Regions from separate parts of the Homo sapiens genome. Here region 2 is linked to region 1. A link means that fine-mapping ties the variant in region 1 to the expression of a gene that starts in the linked region. Tissue or cell type: lung. Region 1 holds a variant in brackets; the other region holds the start of a gene. All regions are shown on one strand. Distances are between the middles of the regions.

Region 1 (2,685 bases):
TCTCCATCTCCACTGTGGCCTAAATTGTGCAGAACCTGCTGCGAGTCTAAATATGAGTTCACAGATGTGATAGGCAGAATAACAGTTCCCTAAAGATTTCCACGTCCTCATCTCTGGAACCTGTGAATAAATCATTGCACATGGCAAACGAGAATGAATAAAGGTTGCAGATAAAATTGATTGATAATCATGTGACCTTAACATGGAGGAATTGTCCTAAGTTGTCCAGGTGTGTCCAGCATCCTTAACAGTAGGACAGGAAGGCAGGGGAGGAAGGACCAGGGAGATGGCAGCCTGAGACAGAATCAGTAGCTAAGGAACACAGGCATCCTCTAGTAGCTGAAAAAGGCAAGGAAACAGAGTTTGCCAGATCTTCCAGGAGTACAGCCCTGCTGACACCTTGATTTTAGCCTCGTAAGGCCCATTTCAGACACCTGGCCTTCAGAACTGTAAGATTTGTGTTGTTTTAAGTCACTAAGTTTGCAGCAATCTCTTACAGCAGCAACCGAAAACTAATGCAAGAGAGTTCTTGATTTACATGTATGCATGCTTGCAGGTATACACATATACACACACACCCCTAAGGGAGAACCCACCAAGAACTAGAAAGTTGTTTGCTGGCAAAAGCCTTCTAACATATGGTTTAGTAAGAAAATGTCCCGACGTTATGAAACCATCACTATCACAGGCCAACATAAAGAAACAAAAATTTGCAACAAATACAGCAAAGGCTTTTTCCCCCATAAGACCTCATATAAATTAATGAAAGCAAGATCAAGTTAATAAATGAGCAAAAAACCTCTGAGGTAATTCACAAAATAAAAAACATAAATGGCTAATAAAATATGAAAATACATCAGATGAAAAAGAACTATTGCAAAAATAAATAAATGAAGAGATGCCATTTTGTTTATTTTCTTGGCATGTATCTTTAAGTGGAACTCTCCTATGGTATGGAAAAGCAGGCATTGTCAGTCACTGCTGTGATAGGATAGATGATACAAACTTTCCAAAAACCAATAATGTGTAAAAAATAGTCATAAAAATATTCAATGGCACTTCTGAAATAATAATTTTACCTCTGGGAATCAGATCATCAAAAATTCAGGAAAAGCATTAATATTTTTCACAATATTATTTATAACTTGAAAACAACTTTCAATAATAGAACATTAATACATAGCAGTATATTTAAATAATACAAATTTATGTAGTCATTAATAATTAAGCTTATGAAGAGTATTAACTTGGGTCATAAGAGTATAAGTGATATATAGCAACTGCAAGAGAGAAAGATTGGAGAGAAATCTATTGTAAAGTTATTAGTGATGGGATTAGGGACCATTTCTTTCTTGTGTATGTAACTGGTTTACTGAATGGGTTGGTAGAATACAGTTGAAAGGCAATTTTGTTTGTTCTCTCACTGTCCCTTCAAGTACACATTACGGCTTTGTTCAGTCTCACCCTTTGGATCATATTTCAAGCAGAATTTATAGCTCTTTTAGCT[C/T]CTCAGAGATATTAAATATCTAGTCCAGGTTACTGCAAATTCTCATCCACTTAAAAACTCTCCCGCTCAGCTTGGGCCTGATTTCAACTTGCAGATTTGCAGAGAGGAAGGAACACAACACTGCTTCCTCCTCTTCTCACCCCACTTCTCTCACTGTTCCTCTGCGTTATCGTGGGGATGAAGTAGAAGGAGAAATGATGGGAGAAAAGGAGGAAACAAGGTGTTAGCATGACGGGTTCCATTGTAATCTGGCAGGGATACTCTCTGAGTGTGACAGCTCCCACACGCTCATGCTTCTTCTTGTGGGGTGCTTTTAGGGGTTCTTCAGAATCCCACCCCACCCCCCTTTAGGATCCCTACCTGTTTCTCGGATGATCAGCCTCCCTGGTTTGCCACTTTGCACCCCTACTTGGCTTCTATAGCCAAAGTACCACCATCCTTCTTCTGAGGTCACCTGCCCTACCAGGAAGTCCTCTGGGATGGCTCCAACTCCAGAACAGCACAGGAAGATCTCTCCAGAGGCCTTACCCCCAGGCTAAGGGCACACACACACATCCTGCCCTGCCAATTCCACCCAGTCCTGTCTCCACACACTGTAACCAAAAGCCCCTCTAGACACAGCCTCTTGCCTTCTGACTCTTCCAAGTGTGAGTTGGGTGCCAAGCCCCATGCTTCCCAAAATGTAAGAAATGTTAAGCTCCCCAAGTGCTTTCGCAGCACCCCCTCACCTGGCTTGAGGTGAGAGGAGGTGCCCGCTGGGTGGGAGGAACCATCAGCACCCTGGCAGATTTCTCTGTAAGTCCTTCTCCTAAGACCTCACCCTAAACTTTTCCCTAACCTCTCACCCTCTCAGGGCTTCTTGGCCTTTGTCCAGACAGTCCAGAGATGGATGACAAGCTCAGGGTCCTAATTCACATGGGCAGTCAAAAGCCCCAGATATCTTGTTCTCTGCATTGGAAACTTTAGCCTTTGACACCAGGACTATCAGAAAAAGTTTCTTTTCCCGGTATTATTTTATAATGGGGTTAAAGGGTAGAAACAAACGTTAACAAAGACAAGAAGATAAACTATAGCAGCTATCAAGTATCTATTTTTCATACCTATTGAAGTGCTTATAGTAAGTATTTTTAGACTGGACTAGATTCATAGACAATTTTGTCCTCTAGGAACTGCAGTGT
Region 2 (2,685 bases), 120 kb after region 1:
TTGTCTGTATTACTCACTTTTGTATTCCCAGCTTCTTACAATTGGCATTCATCAGGTATTCAGATTAACATGTCAAACGCCAAAATTTGTTCAGTAAAACTTTTTCTCCTTACTGGTAGGTAAGATCATCTTCACTAAGGAATAACAAAGTTTGGCTAGGGAACGAAGAACTAGGAGTGTCATAGGAAATGGAGTGGTACAGGGTACATGGGGTGAGGTACCACAAAGGAGACATGGGGCATCATGGGAGCACAAGGGTACCAGAAAGAGAAGTACATCAGAGTGAGTTCCACCAACATCTCCCCTTCCCCTGGGCCCACGCATATTCACTTTTCCCATCCCTGGGAAAAGAGCTCAAGCTGTTCTCCCTGTCCCTCAAAATATGACCAAAATTCCACCAATAATTTAAGGCCATCTCACAACTTTTGTGGCTTGTCATCTTTCAATCCTTTGCACTTCCCAGAGCAAGATTGTGTACATAGTCGGTACTCAGTTAACGATGTTGTGCTGATCTCAGTGACCAAAAGCAAAGTCCCTTTTTTAAATATTTGACGCAGGGCTACCCCTGATTCTAGGAAAGGGGAAGAATCCCCTCTGCTTTTTTTTCTCTTCTCTGGACACACAATATGCAACCTGTTACATTAATTACAGCTTGAGTTAATTCGTGGAGAATCAAATCACCATGTTAAACAGCTATGAAATAAGTTCCAAATATTAGTAAGCAACCCATTTGAAAACTGGGCACTACCTATATGAAAAAACATTCATCTACTTTCTGTTTAGTTACAGAATACAGTGATAATATTCATAGAAAAAAATAGTATGAAAGGCATAATCCTACAGCCAAAATAAAACTAATCTTAATGTCCACACACAAATTTCTTTGGGCAAATTTTAACCCCAGGATGATTTCTCCTAGGTAGCTTTCCTTGGGCCTGTCTCAAATGTGTGTTTTGGTAACACAGACTGATTTTACTACCTCTTTAAAACACAAATATGTTGGAAACGAAAAATTGTGGGCTGCATTTTAACACCAAATAGAACTCACATTAGGATATCAGCCACTGTTGTCCTCTGCTACTGAACATGACAAAATCCAAGTTATACCTTAATTTCTTGATTTTCTATTACAATGCACTGGTATTTTAAATACGCCATCAATACATTTTGATGAATGCAATGCATGTACAGAATTTGTAGATGTAAATGAGTAAAACTTCCCAACTATGTGCGAAAAGGAAATGTTTTATTTTAGTAGAAATTCCTAGCTGTGTACAAAAAAAGAAAATCCGCAGGATTCTTCATGGTGCACCCTCCTCCCTCCCACCTTTAAGAGTCATATGAGTCTAAAGGAATGAACGAGGTACCTCAACCAGGTACATTTCAGTACGACCTAAATGGTGCCCAGCCCGGGTTCCTCCTTGCACCAAAAGCGAAGCACATCTGGGGGTTTTTCCCGGCGGGACGCGCCAGCTGGAGCGCGGCGGCGGGAGGCGCCCAGCGCCAACACCCAGCTCCTCCCCGTCTGCTGCGGCCCCGCACAGCCTCCTTACCGATGATGGGCTTCTTGGCGGTGTCGCCGTGGGGTCTAGACAGCTCGAGGCTCGCCGCCCCGCAGAGTAGCAGGCCCAGCACGCACAGCAGGCAGCCCGGACTGGCCATGGCGCTCGCCGCCTCCCGCCGCCTTTCAAAAGCTCTGCGGGCGGGCGGGGGCTGCGGCAGGGACACCTCGCGGCAGCGCACTCGCGTGAGACTCGGGTGGGCGGTGCTCCGCAGCGTGGGCCTATGGGAAATGCAGTCCCGGCGCGCGCTAGGCGGCCGTGGGGCGGCGGTGGGAGGCTCTGGGAGTGCAGCCGGCGCTGCGCGCCCGCCCCATTGCTCTGTCCCCGGTCCGCGACCGCGACCGCGACCCCGACCCCCACGGGCCGCCTAAGCGGAGACTCTGGAAACGCCTGGGGCGGGTACCGGGTGGTCTCCGCGTCCTTCCCTTTCAACTGTTACGTCGATGTGGACTTCAGTCACCCGTACAAAGCTGGGCTGGCCAACCCAGGTCCTCGAGAGGGGAGGTTGGGTGTCCCCGGCCGAGTTTGGTAACCAGGCAGCGGGGAGGCTGGCAGGGGATTCTAGAAGGCGCCTGAGAACTGCGCGCCAACCGCACCGCCCCCTTGAAGGTCGGGGCCCTATCTCCGGGAATGGTGACAACGTTCGCTGTACGGACAGCCTGTGCCCCTGAATGTGAATGTCCACACTTGCTATTTGGGGGGTCGCGGCATCTGTAGGAAGTGAAGACGGGACGGCGATAGGAACACACGCACAGGCGCATCACTAGGGTCAGAACTGGGCCAACTCCGGGCGTCTACTTTGAAGCGGGCACGCCCAGGCCACGCCTGCAAACGGCGTCAGCTTCCTCTGATCAACCGCGGTCAGCGCCATCCACCGACCACCACTAAGCCTATCCACCGGGGCAGAAAAGATGACTGGTTCCTATTCGTTAAAACTGTTGATTGTTCCTAAATACATGGATATATAGCTTGTACTCAGTGAAAGTTTCCATCTATAAGGGCCAACTGAAATTCAGCATAAAACAAGAATATTTGAAAACCTGCTACATCAATGCTCAGTATTAAGGGTGAAAACGTAAATTGGACAGTCTTTTTCACAAGAGGTTTAAATTCAGTAAGGAAA

Evidence for each region. PIP is the estimated chance that this variant, and not a neighbour inherited with it, causes the effect.
Region 2: GGH starts here. The variant in region 1 is fine-mapped to the expression of GGH in lung (TOPMed, PIP above 0.99).

What each region holds. Positions count from the first base shown.
Region 1 is chr8:62,915,098-62,917,782 of GRCh38, forward strand. All of the region lies in intron 4 of NKAIN3 (sodium/potassium transporting ATPase interacting 3), which reads left to right. Among named protein-coding and RNA genes, the nearest start is that of GGH, 120 kb to the right of the region's middle. The variant C/T (reference allele first, on the strand shown) is at 1,508.
Region 2 is chr8:63,037,107-63,039,791 of GRCh38, forward strand. GGH (gamma-glutamyl hydrolase) reads right to left here and starts at 1,700. Exons shown (of 9, transcript NM_003878.3): 1 at 1,554-1,700. The coding sequence starts at 1,662. RefSeq lists a silencer at 1,734-2,093.